Regions from separate parts of the Homo sapiens genome. Here regions 1, 2 and 3 are each linked to region 4. Evidence: fine-mapped expression QTL. A gene starts in region 4. Each other region holds a variant in brackets. All regions are shown on one strand. Distances are from middle to middle.

What was found. PIP is the estimated chance that this variant, and not a neighbour inherited with it, causes the effect.
Region 1: its variant is fine-mapped to the expression of CERS6 in activated naive CD4 T cells (Schmiedel 2018, PIP 0.95).
Region 2: its variant is fine-mapped to the expression of CERS6 in whole blood (INTERVAL, PIP above 0.99).
Region 3: its variant is fine-mapped to the expression of CERS6 in lung (TOPMed, PIP above 0.99). The same link has a PIP of 0.9 or more in whole blood.

The regions. Positions count from the first base shown.
Region 1 is chr2:168,544,924-168,552,923 of GRCh38, reverse strand. It overlaps CERS6 (ceramide synthase 6), which reads right to left. Exons shown (of 10, transcript NM_203463.3): 2 at 5,223-5,328. Among named protein-coding and RNA genes, the nearest start is that of MIR4774, 34 kb to the left of the region's middle. RefSeq lists enhancers at 1,608-2,178, 2,179-2,750. The variant T/C (reference allele first, on the strand shown) is at 3,265.
Region 2 is chr2:168,414,706-168,422,849 of GRCh38, reverse strand. LOC105373734 (a long non-coding RNA gene) reads left to right here and starts at 1,095. Exons shown (of 6, transcript XR_923559.3): 1 at 1,095-1,457; 2 at 6,652-6,747. It overlaps LOC102724081 (a long non-coding RNA gene), which reads left to right. Exons shown (of 4, transcript XR_002959433.2): 4 at 197-419. The variant G/TG (reference allele first, on the strand shown) is at 4,490.
Region 3 is chr2:168,770,853-168,778,996 of GRCh38, reverse strand. It overlaps CERS6 (ceramide synthase 6), which reads right to left. Exons shown (of 10, transcript NM_203463.3): 10 at 3,863-8,144. It overlaps CERS6-AS1 (CERS6 antisense RNA 1), which reads left to right. Exons shown (of 3, transcript NR_045787.1): 2 at 4,046-4,176; 3 at 4,359-7,046. Among named protein-coding and RNA genes, the nearest start is that of CERS6-AS1, 12 kb to the left of the region's middle. The variant T/C (reference allele first, on the strand shown) is at 3,886.
Region 4 is chr2:168,452,178-168,460,309 of GRCh38, reverse strand. It overlaps CERS6 (ceramide synthase 6), which reads right to left and starts at 4,038. Exons shown (of 10, transcript NM_203463.3): 1 at 3,692-4,038. The coding sequence starts at 3,861. LOC102724081 (a long non-coding RNA gene) reads left to right here. Exons shown (of 4, transcript XR_002959433.2): 1 at 1-3,279. RefSeq lists silencers at 3,347-3,406, 3,857-3,986, 4,107-4,196, 4,227-4,446.

The DNA of each region.
Region 1 (8,000 bases), 93 kb before region 4:
GCCTCTTTAGCCTCATTATTCTAGTGAAAATTTTGTTAACAGGAGTTGCTATACTTTCTTTTTATTGTCTTTGATATTGTGTGAGTTGCTTCTTTATTAATCATCTTTGAATTAGTTGAATTTTCTTGACCTGCTACTTCCAGTGTGGGGAGCAGGAAGGATGCTCTTCCAGTCTGGCTGCCATGAAGGGAGATGGACTCCTGAAAACATACCCTCCACGTGGCTTTATGTGTCCCTCCTCCACTCTTGCCAGCCTGGCTCACCTGTTCCTGCACCTATTGTTGCAAACAGTGGGTGGTTCTTTTGTCTCCTCAACTCTTGAGAAGTGCTTTTGTGCTGGCTTTCCTGACACCCACCCCCACACGGCCCTCCAGACACACTTCATGCTTTTCACTTCCTCATACTTGGTTTCTGCCCAATCTAGGTAGCCTTTATATGTTTTGAAATCTAGAGATATGCATCTCCTAATTTGCCAAATAAGACATTTGTGAGATTTTCTTTCATTTTTTCTTTCTCTGTGTTTGTGTGTGTAGTGTGTGTGTGTGTGTGTGTGTGTGTGTGTGTGTGTGTGTGTATACTCTGTATGTAGGGTGGGGGTTTCTTATTGTTCTTTCCTTATTATTCTCCGTAAGTTTTTTTGAAAGATTTCCAGGCAAAGAAATGAATAATGGAGACTCACATAAACATTTATATATTACAAACACCTAGGTTAATATTAATAACATTAATCTTAACCAGTACTGGGAGGCAAAGAAGGAAAGTATAAAATAAAAATGAAAGGAAATAGATTATTGAGGAGAATTAGGAAAAACAAATTGTAGGAAATCTGCCTATCACTTTAAAATTTACTCTAACATACCAAAAGTTAATTTTATTATTTCCCTGGATCATAAAACCTGGCTTTATACCTGACATATATTCTCACCCCCATGGCTTAAGCACTGATTTGATTAGAAAAGTGAGGTAGTTAGTATCATAGGTATGTACAAATAATATGGTAGGAGAATCCCCAAAAGTTAAAAGCATATTTACCCAGATAATTCTGAATATAACCAGTTAAGAAACAACATAACCAGTTAAGAAACACGAGCTCAAAAATATTCACTAAAGAGAAATAATCATTCTGTTCATTTGAATGGGTCTGACAATCCGTAATTGTAGAATTTTTGGTCCCATTCCAATACAGTTGAGGAGAATCTATAGAAACATGACGTAACACTCTACATTTTAACTCTCAGGTAATCTTAAATGCAAATCAAAATATGGGAACCAATGAGACAAAAGATGCTATATCATTTACTGAATGATTTACATGATTATTTAACCCTCATGAACGCCTGTGAGATGGTTATTCAAAGATTTTTACAAATGAGCTTCATGATTATTTAACCCTCATGAACGCCTGTGAGACGGTTATTCAAAGATTTTTACATATGAGCTATCTGCAGCCTAGGGACGTTAAGAAACTCACCCAAGGCCACAATGACGGGACGCAGCAGAGCTGAGGTTCCAACACAAATATCCAGGTGTAACTGGCTCAAACACCAAGACTTCTAATTGACATTTACAATAGGAGTAGTTTCTATAAAGTGTTTATAAAATTTTAGACAGGGGATGGGGGAGGAGAGAGAGACAGGCAACAGGAAGACAGGTGTTACTTCAAAAGGAAAGACTGCTACAGAATATATAAGGGTTCAAATTTTTCAGCTATTAATAATTTCACAAAGGAGAACCAGATAGGGCATGTGACCTGTGCTGTCACACAGGGACCCCCATTCAGAAGGGTCCACATTTGGGGTTGGAAACCCTGCAGTCACCATCTTGAAATTCTTAACAGTTTTATCATGGAATTTGTGCTTATTATAATGAAGTCCAATGGGGCAAAGGAGCATGTGCCAGGAGCTTGGATTCTTGGCTCATACACAGTCCCACCACTTCCGCCAAATGTGTGTGTGGTTGCCCAGTTCCTCATCCCCTGGCTTGTAGCACTCACCAGCCTCCCTGTCTCCCCACTTCCTAGTGACTGCTGCTGCCTTCAGCCCCCAGTGGAGGGCCGAGTGCAAACACAGAGAGTGGGGGATCGAGTTTCAGAGAGGATGGAGGCAGCTACCCCAGTGCATGTGGTGGGCGACTCGGTAGGGCTGAGCCTTTTGTGTAGCCCTGAATCTGGGCATAGAGGTTGCAATGCACTTGAAGGTCCTTCATCACCCATGGGTTGGGGCAGTGGGCCTGGAGAGAGGCCTGACTGTATTTCTCTGCTCCCCTGACCAAGGTACAGTGTGTCAGCCAGTGGCTGGAGAAAAGGGAAACCTGGCAGCTGGTGGGTCATGTGCACACTAAGTCACAGGGTGGGGCCCCCAGCTACCTGTGAGGGTCTGCACTTTCTCCAAGAGTCTCCCCATGCCATTAGGGAACATGACATTACACGACAAATAAAAAACACCTTGACCAGGCATGGTGGCTCACAGCTATAATCCCAACACTTTGGGAGGCTGAGGCAGGAGGATTGCTTGAAGCCCGGAGTTCAAGACCAGCCTGGGCAACATAGTGAGGCCCTATCTCTCCAAAAAAATTTTTTACATTAGCCAGGTGTGGTGGCCCACACCTGTAGTTCCAGCTACTTGAGAGGCTGAAGCAAGAGGATCATTTGAGCCCAGGAGTTTGAGGCTGCAGTGTGCTACAGTTATGCCACTAGACTCCAGCCTTGGCAACAGAGTGAGACCTTGTCTCAAAACCAAAAACAACAAACAAAAAAACACCTTGACAAGTAGAGAGAGACTGAGGGAGGAAGGAAAAAGCTTTATGTTTTTGTATGCTTAATGGCACTTTTTTTGTGCTTTTTGAACAAGGGGTCCCACATTTTCATTCTGTACTGGGCCCCACAAACTATGTAGCCAGTCATATACAGAGATTTTAAGGGTACCTCTCTCACACTTGAAGGATTATAATCATGCCCTTCTACAAAAAGGCAGCTCAAACCGTGGTAAGGCCAGGATACTGGATGATCATTCACACACACACACAAACGCACACTTTGTTCAAGCTCTCCCAAGTCCTGCCCCTCCTATTCCAGTCAACTGATTGGTTACATTTCATATCACAATTAAGACCGGAGAACTACAAAGAATACAAGGGAAAACAGTTCCAACTTTTGCTGCATTTATATTTTACATGACGCTTCTGTTTTAATCATGTAAAAACCTCCAAAGGAATCACCTTGGAAACTAAAAGAATATGATCATTCAAATTAGCTAGAAGCAAGTA[T/C]TTGTTTTTGTTTGTTTGTTTGTTTTGAGACAGAGTCTTGCTCCATTGCCAGGCTGGAGTGCAGTGGCGTGATCTCTGCTCACTGCAACCTCCGCCTCCTGGGTTCAAGCCATTCTCCTGCCTCAGCCTCCCGAGTAGCTGGGACTACAGGCACCCGCCACCACGCCTGGCTAATTTTTGTATTTTTAGTAGAGATGGGGTCTCACCATGTTGGCCAAGGTGGTCTCGATCTCTTGACCTCATGATCTGCCCGCCTCAGCCTCCCAAAGTGCTGGCATTACAGGCGTGAGCCACCACGCCCAGCCAAAGCAAGTATTCTTTAGAAAAGTCAACCTGGCTGCAAAATCTTTTTATTACCTTTATGGAGGAAATTTCTCCAGTAACTGTAAAAAACATAAGGCAAGGGAAGTGAAACATCCACTGCAGGATTTTTAAGGAGAGGCATCAAATGTGGAGAAAACAAAAAACAAAATTAAAAAAAAAACACCTCATTTTATTATTCATTTAGAATACTGTATGTTTAATGTACTTAGAGTAGTTCACAAAGAGACTCCAAATATGTTATAATCACACTTACAAATGAACCTGAGAAGTCCCTACACACCTGCTTTTTTAAGAGGGAAAAAGTTGTTTCACTTAAGTAATTTGATACACTAAATGAAAATGCAAGCTTTTTCTTTACATTTTTTTCTTTTAAATACTGTAAGATATGTGTCCCTTCAGACAGGAACCTGGCAATCTGAAATTACCCCATAAAAACCATCAAAAGAGCTTTTCCTAAAATTCCATTCATTCTTCTCTTCTTCCTAGCAGAGATATGAAAAACACCTGGTACTTTCTTAATTTTTTGAGGGAAAAACATTTTTAAAAGGACAGAGGGAAAAACTCTAGAGAATTTTGGAAGAAATGAAGACCATAAAATAGATAAAAGTGTTTGGATATCTGAATTAATAGTTGTAAGACGAGATAGCTAGTACAAATGGCTAGAAACACAAATACCAAGAAAAGAAATAGAATTTGCTTAATTCTGTCAAATCACATCTTGGAAGCCTGGGTAATTCTCCCAGAAAAATGAAAGGGAGAAAATGAGCCATTTAATATATGAACACACAATACTTCTCATAGAATGTTGTATTTCTCCTGATCTTTTCTTCTTTCTTGTCCAAACAAGAATAAGGTAAGATATATAAAAACTCGGTAATTTGCTCTATTTTCCTATGGCCTTCAACTGAGGGTTTCTGACTTCCAGCTTTCTCCTCCCTCTTTGTTCTGAAGGAGATCTGAACTTGGGATGGGGGCAGAGGCAGGAGACGTGGTCTCTTCTACCCACTTCTCTCCCACTCCCTTCCTCCCACTCCTAGTTTGGGCTTCAGCTCCCACCAGATTGAGTATCTCCTCCCTTTTATTCTCCACAGTGAACCTATCTCTTCACTTAAGACTCTCCTGACCCTCCTTCTTCATAACTTCATGGTACAATCTTTTATCCTGCAGTTATGCCTTCTTGTTGTTTTTGTTTACATTTGTCTACTTATCACAGCTCCTAGAATCTATGGACAATGCTACAAGCCAAGAGGTCCCTTTTTTCGCACACACATAAATCACATTCTTCAGCTCCACCCAGTCACCTCCACAAAGTCCCTCCCAGCCCTCATCTTGCTTCTAGTCACATCTTGCTTCACATGTGATTAAAAGAGGCACAGAATTAGACTAATCATTATTTAGTCAAGACTATTCTCAGGTGAGCTACTAAAAATCAACTTGAGCGTAAACTACCAAGTCTAAGACAAGCCCATCTTCATTCCGCTTCTACTACGCTTGCATTCCTTCTGACAACACGTTCTCCAGCATAAGGCTAGGCAAAAGTTGATTCTCCAAACCCAGAAGGGGACAAATTGAATGACAGCAGGCTGAGAATGGTGACCGGGGACAATCTATACCCCAGGAAAGGACAATCATACCTTTGTAATTGCAGTGAAGACCTTTTCCAGAATGGCATTGGGCGGAGCAATTTGTGGTCCATTGGCCTGAATGTTGAGGGCTATGGCGCACGGTTTGGCTACAAATCTAAAAATTACAAAAAGAAAAAAGTAGAAGGTCAGAATTTATTCTTTCTATGTGATTCTTAATGCCACCAGTTACACATTACTCAATTATCCCAATAAAGTGTTGGTAGGATTTCATGGGTGTACATTGTCAACACTCCTGTCAGTAACTGTAAGGCAGACTTAACCGTTTTTCTCTCTGTTAGCCCCCAGCAGTAACATTAAAAAAGAAATCCTTTTAAAACATTTAAACCCTCCAATCCTCAAGTTCTAATGAGACAAAGCTAGAAAGACTATGAGATGAAAATATAAGTGTATAAGATAGAAATAAAACAATGATTTCAAAATAATATAACTTATACTCTTCTTACACAGAGCAATAGTCATATTTTTACTGTGAGAAAACGTTTACTAAGCATCTAATTATCCATGCAGAGAGAGCGCTTTGACCACCCGTAGTCATAAACTTGGCAATTTTTGTCTCTATAATCAAAGTGTGCTAAATTCAGCCCCAATCCCTCATGGCTTCTTAAAATTCTCTGCTTTGTGGTTATTTGCTTGTTTCTCATAAAGAGTAATGAAGGATGTCGAAGGGCATGATGTCCCAGACAAGATGAAAAGTCGCAAGTGTTTATGAACATCCACAAAACTGTTTTTATCCTAAGCCAATGCCTACGTCAAGAGGAATGGGAGGACTGAGCCTTCTTTCTGGTCGCATTTGCTGTGTGAATGAGGTGCTGAAGGGGAGCAGGTGAAGTGCATGGGGCCCCAAAGGTGTGGGGACATTGCTAATAAAACTGTGTAAAACAAAAAAAATTAAAAGTTGTTTTAGACTAAATGCTCAAGAAATAAAACTCTGTAAATATTCATTTTCAGTAGTAACATTTAATATTTTCTACTAATACAGGATAATTTCATATCATGTGAAAGTATTACCCAAATTAATTCACTGTTGGTCAAAGGCAACAATTGATAAATATGCAAAACAGACCATAATTAAATCTTAGATGAAGCTTCCTTAATAACAGTTGATGAGATTAAAGAACAGTAGACAAAGGTTTTTGTTTTTAAAGTAGGACCAATGAAACTTACATGTAAAGTACCACATAATATCCTACTGGGTCCTATTTCAAGTAAAAGTGAAGAAATTTATTTAAACAGGAAAATGGAACATTGTACACGTGCAAGCCTAAACCAGGAAAGATAAGACAGAGAAAATGCACCGTAATACCTGGTACACTGGGCTCTCTGGGACAAAGTTGGGAAGAAAGAAGAATCACCCCTTCCCGATATATAAATCCTCTAGAAACTGGAGTTTTCCCCAAACTTCTACATTCTCAATTCTGTTTAATGTAAAATTTTCTGAGCTGCATTACCTACATCCCTACCTTCTTGACAGTAAGTATAACCTTTTCCTAACGACTCTGGCCCTTCTCTATAAATGATAATCATGGGGCTATGGCTATAGTGATGAAAGAAGGAATTTAGTGGGCAATGACCACAAGACAGAGTCTAGAACTTGTTTCCTTGACAAGGTTTCCTGCTTTGTGGTTATTTGCCCCTCATCATAAGGTACAACAGAGCGGGGTGAAAAGACATACGGTCCAGCAAAAGCAAACAGTAAGACCACAAAATGCATTTGGTGTGAAGGACACAACTGTTCCAATGGTTTCTTTCTAGTCTTTCCAGTTGGACTCCTCCCCGCCCTCCCTCATCCTCCCCTTCCCACACCTCTGACACATTGTGTTCACATTCCCTTCCGACTTTGTCATCATCATCCTTGTAACAGCCTGCTGTTCCAGTACAGTCTTCTTTCTTCATCTAAATAGCACTGAGTCTCAATGCAGAAGCTGATCATTTCCTCTTTGTATGCCCTGTGACAATGCCTGTGCATACACAGGAGGGGGTCAAGACATTTAATCAACTGGTTGTCTTCAGTAAATATGTTTTGTTGTTGCTATCACGGTGTTGAGTGCTGAGGACAAGTTAGCAGACATTCTCTGTGTGCCCTGTCACAATGCATGGGCAGGCAGTAGGGGAGTCAAGAAATTTACTCAACACTGTCTCTTCAACTTCCTCACCTCTGTTATCAGCCAAAAAAAAAAAAATCAAAAAAAATTTTTAGTATTTGTTATACAACATAATGTATACATCTCTCCTTCTCTTTTTAAGCTTCAAACCACTTTTAAAACTCTATTTTCTTTAAATTCCAAGAATGAATGCAACAGCATACCACTTAATTGACAACTTATCAAATTTCAATAATCAAAATTATCAAATAAATATGATGCTTTGTTAACATATTTTTACAGCAATGTCCAAAGGATAGGGTGGGAATTATTTCTGCTGCTATCTGGCTATGGAGATTTAGCTACAGGAATTAATCTCTCTCTGCCTTAATCTCCTCATATGTGAAAAAATTATTATAATTATATATGTACATGTATGTGTTTCTACAAATACATGTATGTGTTTCTACAAATACATGTGTGTGTTTCTACAAATACATGTATGTGTTTCTACAAATACATGTATGTATTTAAAAATCATATCATAGAGTCTCTTTGCCTAAAATGTTTGACAGGAGCCATGGGTAAGGTTTCATATCATAGCATTTACAAACCATGACTTTCCTGGGCCCAGCGGCTCACCAGCCTCAGCTACACTGAAACAAGCCATGTGTATTCAAGTTGT
Region 2 (8,144 bases), 37 kb after region 4:
GACTAATCTGAATGGGGTTAGGGACAGATGACAGCAACTCAAAATGACACAGAGGAAGAAACTTCAGACTTCCTGGGGATTTTCTGGTAAACTCTGACTAAAAACTAACTCCTCTGATTGTGCAGCAATGTTCCCTGCTAACATAGCCTTCCTTTTGGACTACCAGCTTTTTTTTTTTTTTTTTTTTTTGAAACAGAATCTCACCTTGTCACCCAGGCTGGAGTGCAATGGCATAATCTCAGCTCACTGCAACCTCTGTCTCCCAGGCTCAAATGATTCTCCTGCCTCAGCCTCCTGAGTAGCTGGGATTACAGGCGCCCATGGACTACCAGCTTTTTAAGTAGACTTTTTAGCCAAAGGCCAAGGGAAACTACCCTCTTCCTACTGGGGTTCAAATTGATTAAAATGGTTTGCTTTGACTTTTGTTGAAGTCTCTTTATTTTCTTTTTAAGATTATGTTAAATTATAATCCACATTGGCTTTCTTTTTACAGGTAAACTTTTTCTCTTCTAGATTTCTAGACGGCCTTCCCCCACTTCGCTTCTCTCTCTGCCATTTTCCTCCCCTCTCCCGCCTCCCCAAGTTAGAAGAGGCTGACAAAAAGAGGCTCATCAAAGTTAAATGTTGCCAACATAAATTGGTCCCTCTTCTCTTCCTTGATGTGACTGGTCTCTCAACCTATTGATGGCATCCAGTTCCAACTTTCCTCTTCTCATTTGGGACATTGGGAGGAGAGTAGTCTCTATTTTTAATAACAAAGTAGTAAGTATGTAATGCCTCTCTTGACTGTGCAAAAGACCAAAACTGGAGAACATTTTATGCTTTGATTTTCTTTCTCTTTGTTAAAACTTAGATAAATTATCTCTTGGGAATGGAATGTTCCAGGCCTTTCTGTTTCATCCTCTCTTAGTAACAGTGTATCGTTGTGGGTTTACAGGTGAAGAAAATATCATCAAATGACAAATGGCCATAAAGATCTCTCACCCAGATTATCTAATGGTTTTACTTATGCACAGAGACTGTAGGCTCTGACTTTTTAGAGTTTTATAATCCTTTTAATAACACTTTTTTTCATTTATAGAGAACTACAGTCAGGCAGGCAGAGTATTTTCTGATTTGGATGAGTTCATAAGACATGTACATTATGGGAATTATATGATTGCTCCACCTGCATCACATCTGGACCACCTCTGGACTGAGCTGTAGGGATGCAGGGAAACCCTGCTAAGTGTCAAGCTGCACCCTGTCCTGCTGGTGCCCATGCCTAGACCCTCATTCCATTGTTCACAGAATTCTATGCCTTGGGATTTTGTCTCTACTTGTCCAGAACTCCTAATTCCTTCACTCTTCCACATTCTAGGTCCTCCTCTATCAATTTAAGTACCAGATCCCTGTCAGCTGCCTTCCCCAGACATTAAGTCAGAAGCTCAGTTTGATGGCAGGGTGTGTGTTTCCAGGTATGGAAGGGTCATGGGGGAAGCCACCACTCTCTCTGAACATATTCCCACCAAATGGCGATTATTCCAACAATTTCTCAAAGTATATGTTAACATAATGATTTTTAAGACTTAGTAGAAAAGCCCTTAAAGAAGTGAAATATGAGAATGAAACATGGCGATGAGATCATGAATTGAATAGAGAAGGGAGTTGAAAAGTTCAGCCAACCCATCCCTTCTGCACATCCAAAAGTAGGGTTCAGTCTGGGGGACTTTGTGTGCTTGGCTTCACACAAGAAAGAAGTCAAAAGCGATCTGACAGAAAAAAAGCAAGAGGAAGTTGAATGAAATAAAGGAACAAAGGGAAGACTGCTCCATAAGCAAAGTAGGGTTACCCCATAGGCAGAATAGCATTGTGGGCTGCTCACTTGTTATATTTGTGATTATTTCTTGATTATATGCTGAATAAGGGATTGATTATGCATGAGTTTTTTGTAAAAGGGGCAGGGAACTCCCAGAACTGGGGTTTTCTCCCCAGTTTAGACCATTCAGGGTAACTTCTGAGTGTTGCCATGGCAACTGTACACTGTCATGGCACTGATGGGAGCGTTTTTTAGCATGCTAGTGAATTATAATTCATGGATAATGAATAGTGAAGGTCACTTTCACTCCACCTTGGTTCTAGATGGTTTATTTATTTATTTATTTATTTATTTATTTATTTATTTATTGTTGAGACAGAGTCTTGCTCTGTTGCCCAGGCTAGAGTGCAGTGGTGAGATCTTGACTCACTGCAACCTCTACCTCCCAGGTTCAAGCGATTCTTCCGCCTCAACCTCCCAAATAGCTGGGACTACAGGTGTGCACCACCATGCCCAGCTAATTTTTGTATTTTTAATAGAGATGAGGTTTCACCATGTTGGTCAGGCTGGTCTTGAACTCCTGACCTCGTGATCTGCCTGCCTCAGCCTCCCTAAGTGCTGGGATTACAGGTATGAGCCACTGCCCCCGGCCTGGTTTCTTTATTGTTATCCTCTTAGCAGCAGGGGCTTGTGACCTGTTGTTTACTGTCTCCTGTCTTATCAGTGGGGTCATGTGGCCTGTTGTCTTGGAGACTACGACTGCCAATTCCTATCTCAGTTCTGTGGGCTGCCAGGCTCAGTCCAGGGTGGATAGACCAGGGACAAGGGTCTGCTCTGAGCATCTCACCTGCCCGAACTCATGGCATCTTCCTACCCTTCCCTGCTTTACGTCATCCTCTCTGAACTTGCCTCTTCCATCCTGTTGACTTGTGGTATGTGCCATTCCACTACAAATCCAACCAAAGTCACACTCTTGTTCCCCTCAACCTCTTGCCCCACAACTCATAAGACACAGTCATTCCTTTAAACTGGGCTATAGTCTGGTTGGAAACCCCCATGAGCAGAACTTAAAACAAGGAGGGCAGGAGAGATGGCAAAGGAAGACTGTTTGGCCCTGACTTCTTATTCACAAAGAACTCATAGATTTTTAGCCTGATCTTTTATTGCGGCATTACATACAACCACAAAGATAATGACAGGATTAAAAGACAAACATATTCATCATAGAAATTTACATTTTTGTCTTTCATATGTCTACTATGATTTCATATCTTTCATGATTTGTAGCTGATGACTAGCATACTTACTTTATTATAATTTGTATCAAAAGCCTACTGTTAATTGTAAACAATATATAATCATTGTAGGTCTATTTTGCTATTTCATCATTTTTAATATGCTAGAGCCTCAGGAAAAAAAAAAAAGAGGCGGCCCAAATTTCTCTTGTTTTCTGAGTGGCTCTATAATAATATGACAATATATGATGAGCACTATTGCTACTCAGAATTTGAAGTTAGCATGGACTGGCATAACAGAAGATAAATTTCAGGAGAGATGAACTTTAGTCTTTCCCTCTTCTACTGTTATTATGCCTTACCAGAGATTTTCACCTTTTTGGCCTCTTACACAAAAAGAATGTAGTATTTTCTTACCACTGACGTCTTACCTAAGCCTCAAGGGAACTGGCACCTCTGCTTCATTTGCTATTTACTCTCAGCTCACTAATGCATCATGCCCATGCTCTGTTAGCTGGAAGAGTCTGAGGAGTTGCAGGAAGGAGTCTCTCGGGGTAATTTTTCTCTATCCTCTCTCCTACCCACCCTTCCACCCCCACCACAACCAGAATCAAGTCTTTCTAAAAGAACTCAAAGAATTCCCCACAATGAACTTGGCTTTCAGACCCTCTCTTCTGTTTTTCTTTCCATACCTAACCAGTCCTGTTCAGAAAAGTGATCTGATTATTCTAATCAGAGACCTTTTAGAAAAGAAAATTCTAAAGACACTTTGGGCATTTGATCTGCATATGTACATTGTATGAAAGCAATTTATAAGTACCTTTTTAAAACTTTGCTTACCTGTGAGAGATTCAAAGGGAAAAAGTTACAAAGAGTAATAAAGCAGATGTCTTATTTGGCTATTTTGAATTACACATTTTAAATATTTTGTCCTGGGACCTGGCATGGTACCTCACGCCTATAATCCCAGCACTTTGGGAGGCTGAGTTGGGAGGATTGCTTGAATGCAGGAGTGTAAGACTGCAGTGAGCTATGACTGCACCACTGTACTCCAGCCTGGGTAATAAAGCGAGACCCTGTCTCTATAAATCAATCAATCAATCAATAAATATGTTGTCTCATTGGCTCTTAATCTTTTATTTATTTAAGAAATAACACACTACATATATAGATCAGTGTTCTTTAAACCCTATCTCCAGGATTATTCCCTCCCCACTTTCCACACCCTTCTCTACTTGTGTGTTTGAAGTGTTGTCTGTTTTCTTCCAGTCTATTCTGCAAGAGAATTACATTAATCTCCATGTAGTTTTACATATATCTAAATATAGATATGTGTACCGATACTTATGTACACATATATACTATGTCTGCATTTTAATGCTATGCATAAGATAAAAATACATGTAATATTTTCTTTTTTTTTCTTTCTTTTTTTCTTTTCTTTTCTTTTTTTTTT[G/TG]AGATGGATTCTTGCTCTGTAGCCAGGCTGGAGTGCAGTGGCACGATCTCCGCTCACTGCAACATCTGCCTCCCAGGTTCAGGCAATTCTCCTGCTTCAGCCCCTCAAGTAGCTGGGATTACAGGTGCCTGCCACCATGCCTGGCTAATTTTTGTATTTTTAGTAGAGACAGGGTTTTGCCATGTTGGCCAGGCTGGTCTCAAACTCCTGACCTCAAGTGATCCAACTGCCTCGGCCTCAAAGTGCTGGGATTACAGGCGTGAGCCACCGCGCCCGGTCATATTTTCTTTTATATATGGTTAATATACATAAACAGCATCATCTTGAATGTATCAATCTCTATCTTGCCTTTCTTTTTCAGCATTGCTTTTGGTGTCTATTCATATTAATATTTATAAAGTTAAAGACCTTTTAAACTACCACTGAATATTAAATTGCATGGATATAATACATTTCATCCCTTCATTCCCTCATTGATGGTCATTAAGGTTTTTCCACTTATTTACTGTTAACAGTGCTTCCATGAATATCCTTGATGTTTCTCCTTTTTGTAATATCTGTGTTTTTCTAGAGAGTGTACTGAGACATAGAATTAATGGATTACAGGATATGTATATTTTTACGTTTACTAGATGCTACCATGTCATATTCCAAAGCGTCATACCAGTTTCTGCTCCAGTTTCTATTGTCCTTTTAAAATTAATCTGTAGGACTTCTATATACATGACGTGAATATTAATCCTTTGCTAATTATTGTGCTAAAAATACTTTTCCCAGTCGTTTGCTTTTCTTTCAACTTTTTTCATAGTGTATTTAACTATGTGGACATTTTAATTTTAGCATAGTCCAACTTATCATATATTTTTCCTTTTAATTGATGGTTTTTGTTTTATTTAAGAAATACGTAACTGTTACATTTCTTATTCAAAAATTGCCTTGACTATTCATGTACTTTGACTCTTCTTTATGAATTCTGGAATTAGCTTGTCAAAATTTCTGAAAAATTATTTTGTAATTTTTATTGGAGTATATTGAATTTATTGATTAAATTGAGAAGATATTTTAAATAATAATATGTCCTTTCAGTTTTATTTATTCAAGTTGTCTTAATATGTCCTCTAAAAAAGTTTATAATTTTCCTATAAAAATCCAACTTTTGAAAAATTAATTTCTTGGCATTTTATACTTTGTGCTGCTCTTTGGAATGATTTGGTGTAAAGAAATTGGTATAAAAATACTATCGATTTTTTTTTAATTTATTTTTTATGTTTTAAGTTTTGAGACAGGGTCTCGCTCTCTCACCCAGGCTGGAGTACAGTGGCAAAATTATGGCTCACAGCAGCCTCAACCTCCTGGGCTTAAAGGATCCTCTCACTTCAGCCTCCCAAGTAGCTGGGACCTCCGGTACTCACCAACATGACTGGCTAATTAAAAACTTTTTTTTGGTTTGTTTTTGTTTTTTAGAGATGGGGTCTTACTGTGTTGCCCAGGTTGGTCTTGAAGTCCTGGGCTCAAGTGATTCTCCCACTTTGGCTTCCCAAAGTGCTAGGATTATAGGCATGAGTCACCACATCTGGCCTCACTGAGAAAATTTTGCTGAGTTATCTTATTCATTAAAATAGTTTTTCCACTTCTTGTCCTGACTCTTGATAAGATTATCATATCATTTGCACATAATGACAACTTTGTCTCTTTCAGAAATGAACAATGTGGTTAACTTTTAAATTTCCAAACCACAATAAATTGAATAATGCTTAGTCTAACTGATACATTCTCTAATATTTTTACTGCTTATTTTCTACATTGACTAGGACTCCTAGGACAGTATTGAAAAGTTATGGTCTCCTCACTCTAATGGAAATACTTTAAAAGTTTTATCATTAAATCTATTTGCTGAAGGATTTTTAAAAAATATTCTTCTCTTATTAGGTTAAGGGATTTTCTTATTTTCCTAATCTGCTAAAAAAAATTCTTTTCATGAGTAAGTGTGTGATATGGTTTGGCTATGTCCACCCAAATCCTATCTTAAATTGCAGCTCCCATAATCCCCACATGTCATGGGGGGGTCCTGCTGGGAGGTAATTAAATCATGGGGACAGGTTTTTCCCCAGCTGTTCTTGTGATAGTGAATAAGTCTCACAAGATCTGATGGTTTTATACAGGGAACATGCTCTTTTGCCTGCAGCCACATAAGACATACCTTTGCTCCATCTTTACCTTCTGCCACGATTATGAGGCCTCCCCAGCCACATGAAACGGTGAGTCCGTTAAACCTGTTTCCTTTATAAATTACCTAGACTCTGGTATGTATTTATTAGCAGTGTGAGAATAGACTAATACGGTAAATTGGTACCAGTACAGTTGGGTACTGGTGTAAAGATAACTGAAAATGTGGAAGTGACTTTGGAACTGGGTTACAGGCAGAGGTTGGAACAATTTGGAGGGCTCAGAAGAAGATACGAAAATGTGGGAAAGTTTATAACTTCTTAGGTACTTGGAGGACTCAGAAGACAGGAAGATGTGGAAAAGCTTGGAACTTCCTAGAAGCTTGTTGAATGGCTTTGACCAAAGTACTGATAGTGATACAAACAATAAAGTCCAGGCTAAGGTGGTCTCAGTTGGAGATAAGGAACTTGTTGGGAATTGGAATAAAGGTCTCTCTTGCTATAGAAAGAGACTGGCGGCATTTTGCCCCTGCCCTAGAGATCTGTGAAACTTTGAACTTGAGAGAGATGATTTAGGGTATCTGGCAGAAGAAATTTCTAAGCAGCAAAGCATTCAAGAGGAAGCAGAGCATAAAAGTTTGAAAAATTTGCAGGCTGATGATGCAGTAGAAAAGAAAAACCTATTTTCTGAGGAGAAATTCAAGCCTGTGGCAGAAATTTGCATGAGTAGTGAGGAGCCAAATGCTAATCGCCAAGACAATGGGGAAAACATCTCCAGCACATGTCAAAGATCTTTGTGGCAGCCCCTCTCATCACAGGCCCAGAGGTTTAGGAGGGAAAAATGGTTCCTTGGGCCAGGTCCACAGTCCCCCTGCTGTGTGCAGCCTTGGGACTTGGTGCCCTGAATCCCAGCCACTCCAGCTCTGGCTAAAAAGGTCCAAGGTACAGCTCATGCCATGGGTTCAGAGGATGTAAGCCCCAGGTCTTGGTAGCTTCCACATGGTGTTGAGCCTGCAAGTATACAGAATTCAAGAATTGAGGTTTGGGAATCTCTGCCTTGATTTCAGAAAAATGTATGGAAATGCCTGCATGTCCAGGCAGAGGTGTGCTGCAGGAGTGGAGCTCTCATGGAGAACCTCTGCTAGGGCAGTGTGGAAGGGAAATGTAGAGTCAGAGCCCCCACACAGAGTCCCCACTGGAGCACTGCCTAGTGGAGCTGTGAGAAGACAGCCACCATCCTCCAGACCCCAAAATGGTAGATCCACAAACAGCTTGCACCATATGCCTGGAAAAGCTGCATACACTCAACACCAGCCCCTGAAAGCAGCTGGGAAGGGGTCTGTGGCAAAGCCACAGGGGCAGAGATGCCCAAGGCCACTGGAGCTCACCTCTTGCATCAGTGTGACCTGGATGTGAGACATGGAGTCAAAGGAGGTGAGATCATTTTGGAACTTTAAGGTTTAATGACTGCCCTATTGGGTTTTGGACTC
Region 3 (8,144 bases), 320 kb before region 4:
TGGCAGCCCTAGCAAACTAATATTCCTTGTTTATTTTTTAAAATAGACTTTATTATTTTAGAGCAGTTTTAGGTTCACTGCAAAATTGAGAGGAAGGTACAGAAATTTCCCATAACCCTCGTGCCCCCACACTTGCATAGCCTCCCCCATTATCAACATCACCCACTAGCGGTACATTTGTTATAACTGATGATCCTCCATTGACACATAATTATCATCCAGAGTCCACAGTTTACATGAGGGTTCACTCTTGGTGGTGTACATTTTATGGGTTTGGACAAATGTATAATGACATGTATCCACTATTAAAGTATCATATATAGTAGTTTCCTGGCCCTAAAAATCTATTCTGTTTATTCATCCCTCTCTCGCCTGCAACCCTTGGCCACCACTGATCTTTTCACTGTCTCCACAGTTTTGTCTTTTCCAGAATGTCATATAGTTGGAATCATATAGTACATAACCTTTTCAGATTGGCTGTTTCACTAGGTAACATGTATTTAAGTTTCCCCATATATTTTCTGTGGCTTGATAGCTCATTTCTTTTTGGTACTGAATAATATCCCATTATCTGGATGTACCACAGTTTGCTTATCCATTCACCTACCGAAGGACAACTTGGTTGCTTCCACGTTTTGGCAACTATGAATAAAGCTGCTATGTATGTATAAATTTCATCCATGTATGGGTTTTTGTGCAGACATAAATTTTCAACTCCTTCAGGTAAACTCCAAGGAGTATGATTGCTGGATCATACGGGAAGAGTATGTTTAATTTTACAAGAAACTGCCAAACTGTCTTCTAAAGTGTGTGAACCATTTGCATTTCCACCAGCAATCAACAGAGTTCCCCTACATGCTTGTTAACATTTGGTGTTGTTAGTGTTCTGGAATTTGGCCACTCTGTGACATTTGTAGTAGTATCCCATTGATGTTTTAATTTGCATTTCCCTGATGATATATGATGTGCAGCTCCTTGTTTATTTGTTTTTTGCTTCCCTTTATTGTAAGTTCCATAGAAGTAGGAACTTATCTGTCTTATTTATCATTCTGTCCTTAGTGTCTACAATAATTCCTGGCACCTAGTGGGCTCTCTATAAGTATTTTTGAGTGATTGAATTACGCAGCCAGGGAACTGAGCCTTTGCTGTTTATTTTTGGCTCTGCAGATATTTTATATTATTCAGTAAGTTAAAAAAAAATAAACTTCTTACCTGAAGATGTGCTTCAAAACTTAGTCATGAATGCTGGAGCATAGACCTTCTTGCCTTGTTTCACAACTGTTTCATTCATTCTCTAGTTCTTCATGTCCTCTCTCTTCAGTTCCTCTTAGCTTGTTTCTAGCCACTTCTCTAGTCTCAGTCCTGCATCTCCCTCCCGTGATGCCTGGACTTGGGATGCTGGTGTCAAATCCCCTTATCCAAGCCTGCCATAAAGCCCCTCAGCTTCTGTGCCTGAGGCACCAGTGAGAGAAGCGGAACCCACACAGGGAAATCCTGAGTTCAGAAAGAGTTGGAGACAAAGTACTGTCTCCTGCTTGTTTCCTAATAGATGGAATGTTAATTGCTAACAGCTCCCATCTTACTAGTTCTCTCGTAACTGGGTTCATTTGTTTCTTCGACAAACATTTCTTGTGTCCTATTACATGCCAGACTCTATGGGAGGCTCTAGGAATACTGGCTTTATGCTGCTTATTTGGTTTGCTCTCCCGCATCTATTGTTGCTGTGCACCATGGGAGGCTGAACCCTGTAGCCTACGTCCCCCAGGCTCCGCACTGTCAGCTTTCTGCTGAGTCCAGCCAATGCGTGGTATAACAAGGCAGGAAGAGAGAGACATTGGGGTATTTTCTTTCCATCCAGGTTTGTAGCCCCCAAAGAGTGGCCTCTCTTCCATACTAGCCCCTCTCACTGGCCTCTGGTTACAACCCAGGGGTGGTAAAGGCTTCCCATACTTGTTAGCCTCTGGGTGCCTCACTCTCCCTTGTTTGATGTAATCCAGCCCATGCCTCTGTAAAGTCATCCTTTTATTAAAGTTTCTTCAACTTAACCATCTGACAGTGACTGTTTCCCACCTGGACCTTGGCTAAGGCAGACTTTATATAATTTTTAAATTTCAGGCTGGGTGCAGTAGCTCATGCCTGTAATCCCAGCACATCAAGGCCAAGGTGAGAGGATTGCTTGAGGTCAGGAGTTTGAGATCAGCCTGGGCAACACAGCAAGACTTCACCACTATGAAAAATTTAAAAAATTAACTGGGTTTGGTGGTGTGTGCCTCTAGTCCCAGCGACTTGGGAGGCTGAGCTTGGGGGGATTGCTTGCGCCCAGGAGTTTGTGGCTGTAGCAAGCTATGATCGCAACACTGCACTCCAGCCTGGGCAACTGAGAGAAACCCTGTCCTTAATTTTTTTTTTAATTAAAAAATTTAAAATTTTAATGTTTAGGAATAATATAACTTTTGTTTCTTTGTGCTCCAGCACTTTGAGAATAATTAAGGGTGTGGGTCCCAGGATCCAGTTACTGTGCTAATTGGTTCTGAGGGACCACCCAGCATCCCAGTAGTTCTTGGTACACAGCTCTCCCCCTTTGTTGTCCTATCATCTCTCAATGTTGTTAGCATTGTTGCCACTGTTCCCACTGAAGCAAGAGCACGGCTGGTGGAAACAGAATTAGGAGGCAGGAATAACAGATGCTTAGGTTGGATATGGCAGCCCCAGTAGTAAGCAATGGGGCCTAGAGAAAAGGGAGTTGCATTTTGGCTACTTGGGAGAGATACTGCTATAGTTCGAATGTCCTCTCCAAAACTCAAGTTTTAAGGTAGGACCTTGTCCTTATGCATGAATTAATGCTTTTATTTCAGGAGTGATGAAAGGATGAGTTTGGCTCAGTTTCCTCTGTCTAGCATGCTTGCTCTCCCATGTGGCACCTTCTGCCATGTGATGACCTTCACCAGTTTCCAGCACCATGCTCTTGGACTTCCCAGCCTCCAGAACCATGAGCCCAATAAACTTCCATTCTTTATAAATTACCCAGTGTGTGGTATTCTGTTACAGCAGCAGAAAGCAGACTAAGACAGATGCTTATAGCATTAGATTATGCTATGTTTTGTAGAACTGAAGAATTCATGGATTCCAAAAAAGTATATTTTTTCATAGTCTGTATTTTTGTGTCTCAGAGGAATGTTGGTGGTTTAACTTATTAGAATAACTCATGCTTGAAATCAGCATGAGTTATTCTATTGTTGGGGGTGGTTATAATGTTTATAAGATTTTAATAGGGTATCTGCTTTATTTTTTATAATACTTGTGATAGTGGTGGGGTGTCTGGTTGAATTTCAGTGCTATTTTTACGGCTTTTGAGTACTAGAAGACCTAAGCTTAGAGCAGAAGAGCAGATTGAGAGAGGTATTTCACAGGAAAGACAGAGAAAGATGGAGAGAAGTTCTAGCAAAGTGAGGTACAAACCAAGAGAAGATGATGTGGGCCAAACTCCGATGAGGGGTGCATACACAGAGAAGGGAAGTTTTGTGTTGTGCTTTGGGTGTTTATCCTAGGTGCCTCTTTTAAAATTTTTTTAAAAATAAGCATAACCTGATATATTTCAGATGATCTCTATAAACCATGTTTTCCAGAATAAAGTGCTACATAAAATTTAGCATTGAGGTTTTAATCTTAATTTTCAAAGAGATACTACAGTCTATCCAAGTTAACGTAACATTACTTTCTCAATGATCACAATGATACTGGGAGTTGACGAGGCTTGTAACAATCTACTGGGATGATGTGAGCCTTTATTAACCTCATCAGGTGAGATGTGATGTTTTACCCACACGAGCTGGTTAGCATTTACAGTAAAGGGCACTTACACTGCACTCTTAATACTTATCTTTA[T/C]TATGAAAGTGTTTCCAAAGTAAAATGATCCTCATAATAATGATTGCTTCCAGAGATCAAGAATGAATAATTATATTTTCATATAAAAATCAGCAAAACACAATAACAATACATAAAATAATTCTAATTGGCTAACAGTATTTCATTCCATTTCTGACAGAGATGCTCAAGCACTGAATTGTCTTAAGAAAACAAGTAAGGTTTTGTCACCTATCCTATTTCTCACTGCAAGTTGAAAAAAATCAAATCCAAACACCACCACCCCTTCTATGACAACAAACGGCTGTGGAGGTAAATGACTATGTGGGCAAAGAGTTGATGAAAATCATGAGCTTAGGGGCTTTATGAAACTTTGGGAAATCAAACTCAGAGGTTGTTTTCCATTCTTAAAGTAATGAAGCTCTAAGTTAAAGTTTCAGAATCATCACATAACTGTTCCTATTCCATAACTCATTTCTTTTTTTTTTTTGCAGGTAATCTTATTTTCCTAAGGGTAGTTTCATGATGACAGTGTCAAAAAATTACTGTGGATAAAGAAAAAATTGTCTCAATGAAATAGAATTTTTCACTGAACACAGAAACCATCTCAATAGTTGCTGCTCCCTGGTTTCCAGGCCACGCAACAGACATCAAACCAGGAAGCCAAACTTTCATGGACCTGTGTTAAGAAAAACACACATACATGGGCATACTACTTTTTCCAGAAAAACGGAATTAGGCAGAGAAGGAAGTGTGGGTGTACAACTGATCCACAAGCTATTGGGAAATCAATAGCTAAAAAATGTCCACACCCTGGCTTCCTTTTATCAGGAACTCCAGGAGGCTGAAGGAATGTGAGTGCATGAGATAAGCAAGACAGATCTTAACGGTCCCCTCACATCCCTTTCTGGGCAATCTCCAGAATGCCTAGTTTTGTGGAGACACCATGTACTATCTGGCTGCAGAGACTTTCTTAGGTCCCGTGTTAGACCCCATGGGGTCTCAGCATGTGGTCATGTGGTAATGCATTCCTTTCAAAGGCTTTGGGTTGAACTCAAGTTGGAAATACCTGGAAAAGACCAAGCTTCTCCTTTGGGTGTCTGCGGATCCTATTAAAAATATTCGTGATGTTTTAAGTTCTCCAATACAATTTTCTCCACGAAAACAAGCATCAGATACACTACCTCTAAGTATTTATTGGAGGGGTTCCAACAGCCTCGTGGACAGGCCTTCTCAGCAGCTACTGAGTGCCCCCTAGGGGTGGGGAGGGGCCAGTGCACATGGAGGCAAACCACAGAGCCCTTTTGTGGCCTATTATTATGAAGAACTAAAATGTGGCCAGTGAACCAGTCAGTGCTCATCACTACGGGGTACTTTGACAATGGCACAATTTCATTTTACCAAAAGAAACCTTCACTGGCTCTGGGGACTGCAATATCTTCATTTTAAAATATTTTGCTGCGTTTTCTTCAAGGGCGGCTTGTGACAACTGAACTGCTGATTATTCCTTCCATGGACAGCATGGTAGTGGCAAGTGCAGTAACTGGGCTCATTGCATTTTCTCTTTCCATACAAGTTACTGCAACTGCCATGTGATCACTTTTCCAGCAGGCTGACTTCGATTTGATTTTTTTCTTATTTAAATGTTAGAAACATCTCAGGGCTATTATTATTTATCTACAAAGCAGAAATCAGCCAAAGACAAAGGAAAAAAGTAAGCTAATCAGAACCTGAAGACCTGAAATACCACATGAAATGTAAACATTTAACTTTTTATTTCCAAAGGATTTCTTGAAGCCTCTCTGGAGATAATGACATCACCACACATACTGTTAAACAATCTTTTAATACCTTTGGAATTACTCTTTATAATTTTTATACTTCAAATTAAGAAAACCGCCCAATGTTCAGGCAACTTTGGCATTAACATTTCCAAGAAAGGGACAAAAACAACTATTAATGCAACATCATGAAGAGATTGGGGACAATTGTGGGTGTCTATAAAGCTCTCTTTGAAAAGCTCTTTAAAGCGAACTCAGGTAAATGGAAATGAAATCTGACTTTTTACTTAGGCCAAATAACAATGAGGTTTGAATATAAAATGGAAGATTCAGGCCCTTTCTACCTAAGATGAAGGCATTTAGTTTGCTCAAATTCAAACTCCACCAAATACTCTGAATGGAAAGTTTGGCAACAGAACTGGACATGTGGAGGTTCACCAACCATTTTGATCAAAGGTGATCTGATTTTATCTCACTTCTTGCCTAACCTTTCTGGCTTCTTTACCTTGACTAGATGCCTGTGGCATTATATAATGATGCAGCCCAGCAGAAGTAGGATGCTAATAAACCCTGGGGTAAAGCAGCAATCATCTGCATTTTTACCACATACACTTGAATAATCCAAAATACTGAGAGTTGCTTCCCTATGCTCAACATCCATAGGACCAAATTTGGAAAGGTGAACTGTAGTTGGCTTATATGCTGGCCTTAGGTGCTCTTATGACCTGTGCTTAGCCATATTTAGCTCACTGGCTAAGAGGCTGAAAAGATTCTACCACCTTCAGGTGTGTGGGGAACATGAACAGGAGGCTGACAAACAAGGAGGGAAGTTTCTATTGTACCTGGTGAGTGGGTTTTATGAAAAGAATATGGGTAGGGATGAGTCAGTGATATTTTGGTTTTATCACTTTTTGGAGAAACATACATATATATACATAAATAGAACACATGTTTTTATATCATTTATTGACCTGAGGCCAAATTCTACTCGATTTTCTACTTTCCCCCTACTAAGAGATCCAGAAAAGCTATTAACATTAGAGAATAAAGTATTACTTCTTCTGGAATCCTTTCTACATACCCCTTTGTACTCTGGGAAGGTTTGAATGTGACCAGGAAGGAGGAGATATCAACACAGGCTAAGTTAATTAACGAAAAACAGCATTCTGACTAACCTATAGTTGAATTTACAAAATACACTTCAAAGCTATGGCCTGGTACAGGGGGAGGATGAGATACTGCACATATTTTTCTCTCTCAGCCTTATCAGGCTACCATGGGAAAGCTATAGACAGAGATATATTATTCTTCACCATAAAAAGCCTGCAAACCCCATTTTAATTAGCCCCAAAGAACTGTGCCCTAAAATGTAAAATGAAATAAAAATCTCTGGATAACATAGACGACTGTGTGAAGTGAATGCCATCAGTTAGAGAGACCCCAAGTGTTCCCAGTTCTCCTTCTAAGTAACTTCTGGGGGGAAAAATGATTGCTTAGATTTGCCTTTGCTAATGACAGACCCCATTTACTACGTTTTATGCAATTCTTCTAAACCTTTAATTTACAAGATGACCTCCTTGAAATTATTCTTCTGTGCTCGAGTGTCATATGATCTAAACCTGAACACATGGATCTCTAAAGTTAATTTTAGCCATTGAGAGGACTTGCCCCAGACACTAAAGCAAGCTAAATATGTTCATATTTTAATTAAGAAACTTTTACCTTCTCAAAATTTTCAGCTGTAATATGCTATTACCTTATACATATACTTGCATTTTAGCAGATGTTCTGGAGACTAACAAGTCCTTTTATGATTGTTCTTACAAACTCAACCATCCACAAATTACACTCCTAGACATATGCCTGTTTTGTGAAATAAAATAACAAGGCTCTAAAAGCAGAATTATTTGCATCGTTTTCTCAATAAACAAGCAGATGTATTTCTAAGCCTCTTCAATTATTACTAAGGACCATAACAGAAACATATTATTTTGTAAATAAGTAGGGCAAGATATAATATTACGGTAAGAATTTTTTGGTTGGGAACATTCTTTTAACTATTAACCCACAGATTGCAAATTGTGGGCAAAAAGCTTTAATTTTTTCCAAGAATTGAATTAAATGTGAATGGTTCTGAGCAGGATACGCACTCTCTGGTGTTTCTGCACGCTTGTTAGCATTTCTGCTGTTGTCTTCACAGCCCTGATTCACACATTTATATTATGGCATTTTTGTTTGGGGTTCGTTCTAAGTGATGGCCTTCTTGATTTATGAAGGGTTTTATAATCCCTTTTTCCTCTTACTAAAAGTTAGAAGAAGAGATAAAATCTTTGGCTGACATATGGTTTTCTTATCTGTACATAAATAACACTGCTATGTAGGAGACTTATGGAAACTTATTCTTCAGTAATTTTCCTCATTGTTGATATTGCCATTGTCCAATAGAATTTTTCATTTTTCCAGAAACAGCCCCATTTGAAAAAAATTCCTGGAAACCAA
Region 4 (8,132 bases):
GGTGAGAGGACTGCTTGAGCCCAGGAGGTGGAGGTTGCAGTGAGCCATGATCATGCCACTGCACTCCAGCATGGGTGATGGAGGGAGAACATGTCTCAAAAAAAAAGAAAAGAAAAAAAAAAGACATTCAGCCGCTTCAAAGTTTCATCAGATAATAATTAGTAATTTTCAAGCACAGATGATCCACAGGAATCAAAGAATCAGGAGGGTGAAAACAATAAGTTACAAAGGCCATTTGCCTCAACACATAAATGAGAAAATAAACAGAGATAAATTAGGAGGCTGCCCCAGTGTAAGTTTTGACTAGAATTTGAGTGTTCTGATTCCCGATCTATACTTCCTGCATCTCTCCTAAATCCACAGCATTAAAGTTAACATTTGTAACAATAACTCAAAGAATTTTTATTTCTAAAGAGATTCAGCACAATTTCCACATTTATAAATACCACAGCAAAACACATTTTTGAAAAAGTGAAGTTGGAAGAAGCATTTATTATAGTTCCTGAGAATGGCTTACTGAATCTAAACAAGCATTAAATCAAGAAAATTCATCAAACAGATGACAATGCTATATTATTAATAAATAACATTTTGTTCTTTGTGATCAAGTTAACATAATATAATGGTATACAATTTTTATTCTAAGAGAATCAGCCCAGTTGGGGGAAAAAAAAAAACCCACATACTTTACTCTGTCAATCAATTGGTCGCTACAGTGGTCCTGGTCCTTACCCGGAGTTAAGTATGGTATAAAGGCTATGCTAAAAACCACCAAGCTTTGAGATCTTCACAGACTCAGCCAAAAGTCATTGACCTTAGGCTGCCCCATTTTTTACCAACCATGCTGGGCTTCCATATTGCTGTCCATATGCTGTCATAAAGTGACATGTTCTGGCTACCAATGCCTCCACTATCCACACCACAACAGCCGGGATGAAAATAAAAAGAAAGGACTGTTTAACTGGGCAAAGCCCATTTCAGTCAATTCTTTGATGTTTCTCTTAGTAGAGAGAAATACCTAAGACTGAGAAGAAGGCATTCAAATTCACGATTTTAGCCTCAACAAGGACATTACTGACTTCACTTAATGTAAAATAAAGACTTGGATAATCGGGTATTTCTTAGGTATGGTCTCAGCTTTGAAATAAATGACAAAGCATACAAAGAGAAGAATCTTGAGAGAATTATTCCTATTACAAAAGCATTTCATTCTACAAAGGGATTCACAACAGGCTTTTAAAATCATCGTATACATTATAGAATACTGCAAAAGAAAAGGATGTATATACAAAATGCTAGAAGGCCATTGAATGTGAGTTGTAGCAGTGATAATACTGAATGGTTCTGTTTTATTGATTCAGGCCCTTGATGGATGCTACTGAGATGAAGGTCACAGGTTGGATCCCAGAATATGTCATTTAGGTTTGAGAAGAGGAGAAACATGCAGAACTTCTAACTCTAGATACAACTAAATTGTGGATTTTCAGAGAATTGAGAAGGTCTGAATGGTTAAAGACAGAGCTATCATAGGAAGAAACAAAGTAGATAGTCTTCCAAAAGTCAGTAGCATTCTGTGACATATGTGCCATATTGGATTATTATTCTGAACATTAACCATAAACTTTCACTTTCCATACAGGCCATTAAATCTCTTCTACTTAGATCAATGGCCTGAAGGAAACTGACCAACTCACTTTATATCAATATGAGGACATTTGCTGTGACTGACAATTGAAAGCAGCTCACCCCTCTATGTAAACTCTAAGTCGAGTCATGGGATTATGGAAAAAAAGAAAGAAAATAAAAAATGTTTAGAAAGAGGAAAAATGAACTTCCAGTTTTCAACTATCACATTAGTGTTTATCTTTTTAGAGGCAGAGACAATCTAAGTACAAAGCCATCTCCATTCTAACAACTTAATTTTTTTAAACACAGTGAACAGCCTGGAATCAGCATAGAGAAGGAGGATGTCAGGAAAATTCGGCTGTTTGTGCACAGATCATGCTTTTGTTCTCCAACACATAAGACTGCACATCTCTTTCAAATGCATTATCTATCTAAAAGTGAGCCCAGCCAGAATTTATCAGACACAATTTATCATAATTCAGCAATTGTGTGTAGATCCCCTACTATGTGCCAACATAGAGCAAACCTGCTATCCCTGAGTCTGCTTGTTTTTGGAGAGCCTGCAAAACTGTATAGAGTTCATATTTTCTGTAACCAAACATTTGCTCTAGAGGTAACTCTACACCTGCAAACACACCCATTTTTTCACAGCACTGCTGTGACTTTTTTGATCCTTTTTTGTATAGGATCAATGACACATCTGTATTAGATTCCAATAATTTAAACATAGGTCTTAAAGTCTGTTGCTTTGTGCATGTCAATTTCTGCAGGCGAACAGCTGACTTCGTTTTCAAGCAACAATACTGTCCGGTGAAAAATATACCTTCCTGAGACAAAAGATACTTTTTGTCCCCATGAAGCTTTGTTGCCTCGTCCAGCAGCAAATGACTCAAAAGACGCGTTCTGCCACCCTCAACAGTCGTTTTCAGGCAAAGAGGAACAGCAAATGAGGTACCAGCAAAAGCTTAAGAAACAAAACCAAGGTGAGTTGAAGGCGGGGAAGAAAGGCGGAGTGGAAGCGAGAAATGCAATCTAAACTCTACTTTGTGATCTAAGAAATTCAGCCTTTACTGATGAATTGGGCAGAGGAAGGGGAGGGTACAAGAAAGGGGAAGATAATATTTTCTGTTACGAAAAAAAAAGTGTGCTGCTGTCCTGGTTTTCTTTCAGTAGCACCCAGAGAATGCATGGCAGGCACAATCTAGTTTCGCGACGAAAACGAATTCCATGAGAATAACACAAGTTTGTATGTGACACAATGGAGATATCCAACCAAACCGAGGAACTATACAATTGCATGACAATTCCTCAAAATTTTAAGTGCCTTCGAGTACCAAAAAAGAAGTTTATGATTATTCACAGGACAGGGTTATCAGTTTAATATCACCATTTTGCAGGATGTGGACCCGTCCTGTCACATCCTCTTTTAAAGAAACCGCTAATAACCTGAAATGCTATTATCCCCTATTTGCCAGGACTGTGGGCCTGATAGTTTCACGGATAAAAACCAAACAGCGACCAGAAGCCAGGAAGTCCCTGGCGAATTCTTTTGAAGCACAACCCCTACAATCCGTGTGCCGGAGCATAAAGATTGAAGTGTGCGCGGTTCCTCCTCCCTCCGGGCCGCGCGTCCGGAACGTTCCTGGCTGTCAGGTGGGTGGCGCGGGCCCCGGCGGGAAGCCCTGCCTGGCAGCCTTGCGTGGCGCGCCGGCGGAGAGGGGCGAGCCCCGCGGAATGCGGCGGGTCCTGAGCCCGACCACCGCTCACCTTTGTTCGCCTGCCCTTGCCGGGAGGAGAGCAGGGCCCAGGAGGAGGGCAGGGGGCGACCCTAACGCTCCGCGGCTCCTCCCCGGCGCCCGGGAGGAAATCCGTGGCAAGCCAGACCCTTTCTGGCTCCCAGAAAGCCAGCGGGGCAGGGGGGTCAGCAACCCCTCCCCGAACACAAAGGTTGGGAGGCGTGAACGCGAGCGTTGGGGGCGCGGGGGCGTGCGCCAGAGAGCGCGCGAGTGTGTGCGCGCGTGTGTGTGCGCAGGGGGAGGGGAGGAGGGGCTTCAGCCCTTCTTACCTCTCGAAGATGAGCCGCACCATGAAGATACAGAAGGCCAGGGGAAAAGCGAGATAGAGGTCCTCAGCCTGCGGGAAGGTGGCCTCCTCCGTGTTCTTCAGGTCCGCCCAGGTGACATTGTGCGGGAGCCAAAACCTCTCGTTCCAGAACCAGGCTAAGATCCCTGCCATCTTGCTTTGTCCACTCCTGTCCTGCGGCACCCGCAGCCCGCCAAGCTCTCCACCGCGCAGGGCGCCCGGGGATGCGCGCCCGGCTGGCCCCGAGCCTGTGCCGCCGCCGCCGCTGCTCCCGCCCGCCGCCGCCGCCTCCTCCGCGGCCGCTGCTCTCGAAGGCTCGCGGCGAGCCCCGGTTCTCTCCTCCCTCTGGCCGCGCTGGGGAAAGGGGCCGCCTTGCCCGTCACATGGCAGCTCGGGCCGCCCGCCCTGATTGGCTCGTCTTCGCGTCAAACAGCGAGGCACACACGCGGCCAACTCGCCCACACCCGCAGGGCAGGGCGCAGTCGCTGCGCCCTGGGCGCAGGGGCACCGCTCCGGGGAGTGTCGCCCGCCCCTGCTCTCACCGCTCTTTCGCTTTGCGCTTAGGGCGACGACCTAAAGTCGACCCCCCAAATCCGCCCTAGCCCCCTGGCTGGCTCGCACATGCTCAGAATGCTGGCTCCTGCCCCGCTGGGGTTTCAGGGCTCTCAGTCCTCTTCCCGTGCGCCCGGAGGCGGTGGGTCAGCAGGTAGGGGCTGCCGCCAAGCTTCAGAACCAGCCCTGCTCCAGGAGGACAGCAAAAAAAAAAAAAGGGGGGGGGAGGGGGAGGGGTAAAGAGCAAAGGAGGAAGTGGGAGGGAAAGGATCCTCCACTCCCGCGCTTGGAGAGGCAGGGTGAAAAATCAGGAACTGAGGCAGGATGGTTTGGCAAGAGCCTTCTGCCTCTGCCCCACGCCTGCCTTTCCCCAATCTTTGACTTTCCGGTCTTTTATACTGCTGCTTCTCATCAAAGTAGCTCCCCCAGGGAACAAGCCCCCCTATATTGATTTATGAGGTGGTACAAAAAATTAGGCACTTAATTGCTATTTGATTATTAATTGCTACTTGATGACGATGATGATGATGATGATGATGATGATAGCAACTGCAGCGTTCTGTAAAACCACCCCTCTCAACTAACCTCTCTGAAAAGGCTGCTAGACCACATTTTGACCTGGCACATCATGAGAACCTCCACTGTGCTACTCGGCAGGCTCATTATTTCTGCCTTTTGAATCTAAAACCTTTAAGGCATTAGGCCTGTGAGGCCTAACCCAGGCACCTTCCCTCCCGCAATGCATTTCCCCATTGATACAGGAGCCATGTGTGAATTCATTCCATGGCCCATGTATACATGGTTCTGGGGCATTTTTGTTCATTTTTCTCACATTCATTTTCTGCCTGGTGCTGCCAGTAGGCTATACTAAACCTTTCCAGTGGGCATATAACCGCACACACACACACACACACACACACAGAGAGAGGGAGTTTCTTTTACTCTTCCCTCCCCTCTTTCCACTCTATCTCTTGAAAGTGAAACTGAAGAATGGCCTATACTGGTGCTTCCAATTTCTCTCCCCTCATTTTCTTTTGAACTTCCATTTGGACATTTGTCTCCTCTGCTGCATTGAAACTGCCCAAGGTCACCTGTGATCTTCATGCTGCTAAACACAAAGGTCAGTTCTTATCTTAGTCCAGGCTGCTTAGACTAGGTGGCTTAAACAGCAGAATTTATTCCTCACGGTTCTGGAGGCAGGGAAGTCCAAGATCAACATGCAGGCAGATCCAGTGTCTGGCAAGGATCCTCTTCCTGGTTTGAAAACAGCTGTTTTCTTGTGTATCCTCACATGGCAGAGAGCACAGAAAGAGGAAACACAGATTAGTGCCCTATCTTCTTATAAGGGCACTAATCCCATTCATGAAGGTTCTACCCTCATTAGCTAATTACCTCCCAAAGACTCTGTCTCTGAATACTATCACATTGGGAACTAGGATTTCAGCATATGAATTTTGGGGGACACACACATTCAGTTCATAGCAGTTCACAACACCTCTGTCAGTAGCATTTGGCCCAGTTGTCAGGTCGTGTGTCTTAAAACATTCTTGACTTGGCTTCCAGAAACCTCACTCTTCTGGGTTTCTTCCTCCTTCATGGCCATTTCTTCTCAGTCTCCTTCCTGGTTACTCCTCACTTTTCTAACCCCTAGAAGTTATAGTGGCCTAGGAGTCAGTCTTTTTTCCTCTTCACTTTTCTATCTGAATGTATTCATTTGGTGATTTTATCCAGTCTCGTGGCTTTTAATGACATCTGTATGCCCTCCAATGTCATGCTAATAGCTCCCATATTTATATCTCTAGCCATGAACTTTTTCCTGACCTTCTGACTCTTAAATCCACTGGCAATTTAACACCACCACTCAGATGTCTAAAAGCTATCTCATGACCAAACTATTAATCTTCCCCTTGAAATCTCTTCCTCCTGTAGTCTTGGCTCAAGCCAAAAATGTGGAGTCATTTTTTCCCCTTCTCTCTTTCTCTCATACCTCCTTTCCAATCCATCCCAAATCCCATCAGCACCATTTTAAAACCATAATCTCACCATCTCTCACCACCTCCCCTGCTACCATCTTGGTCCAAACAACCAATACTTCTAATTCACATTACTCCAGTAACCTCCCAACTCCCAGTTTCACCCTTTGCCCCTCTACAGTCTATTCTCAGCCAGTGTGATCCTATGCAAATTTGTCAGATCACCCCTGGGGTGAAAACCCTGCTTCTTCCTCATCCCTCCCAAGTGAAAGCCAAATTATTCCAATGACCTGTGATATTTGGTTCCGTATTAACTCTGACTTATTTACTCTTCTCTCTCCTTCACTCTGCCTGAGTCCACACTGGCCACCCTGCCCTTACTGGGACACACCAGCTATGTCTTAGAGCCTTTGTGCTTGCTCTTCTCTGTCCCTGGAACTCTTTTTACACGAACATCCATGTTTGCTCTGTACTGATGTCATTTTCTCCCTGAAGCCTTCCCTGGCCACCCTAGTTAATCTACATCCCTCAATCCCCACCACCACTCTTCCTATCTTGCTTTGTTTTTCTCCAAGACACTTACCACCGTCAACACAAGATATATTGTACCTATATCTTCATCAATCATCCACACAGACATGCACTAAAATGTAAGCTTCAGAAAGTTAAAAGATTTGTATTTATTTTATCAACTGTTCTATTCCTAGCACTTAAAAAAAAAAACTGCCCGGCACATTGTAGATACTCAATAAACTACTGAATAAATGAATCAACATTACTCCAACCCCAAAAAGTCTTCTCAAGGAGAAGAAAAAAAATCTGAATAATTGTGTTAAATATTTATATATCCATGTTAGACTCGTGTGTAGAATAGTGTGGGCATAAAGAAGGAATTGGTCAATTCTGGGGTGAGGGAGGTGAGGTGTCATTGAAGTGAGTCTTCATTTGGGAGTAGAAGTCGCCATCACCACTCTAGACCATGTGGTGAGCTTCTCAGTAACACTGGAACATGCCTTGGCACCAGCTGCATTCTCGTAGGCCATAGACAGAGGTTTGTTAAGACCTCTCACCAACTTTGTGTCCGAAAGTCATGTCATGACATGTCATGACATGTCAGAGCCTGGCCTTCTGGGCCAGCCAGACTTCTTCTGTGACTACCCCTGGTTTCTCATGTCACTCCTTCCTGTATGACCTGATAGTACCTTGCTTCCTACTCCATGGCTTCTGTGCTCTCCAGCAGCTCCTTCTATGTCCCCAAGCATGTATAATACTGTTGGTGAGTTAATGCCCTGGGATCTGACTTTGATCATGGGCAATGAAGACAGTAAGTACATTTTTATTCCTTTCCTCCCCACCCCTCGGACACACACAATGGCTTCAAACAGCCTCTCTGAAAATACCCCCTGCTACAAACCCATCATTTTATTTCAAGATTGTGACCCACTCAGTAACTCACCCCCTGATATAAACTCATCATTTTATTTCAAGATTGTGACCCACTCAGTAATTCACCCCCTTATATTTCCTCTCCTCTTTCTCATCTCACTCTCCTTTTCTCTCATTCCTGCTTCCCTGAAACTACACTTCCCTGGAACTTAGAAGCTAAACTAATAGGAGCTAAACTAAGATAATGTGGCTCTCCCATTCATCAACTTTGAGAAGGTGGTGGGATTTCAGGAACATTTTGAAGGGTGAGTTTTGTTGGACAGTAAAAGGAGGATTTAGTACTTTCTATGAATCTTCCATAAGTTCCTTTGTTTCTAAGAGCGTGTTAATACCCTCCTGTGTGATTTGTGCATCAACAGTACCTGTCTTGCCTCTGTCACTGACTGTCATGAGGCTCACATAAGATAACATATGAGAAAGGGCTTGTAAACTATTCTTCTCTATACCCATGTA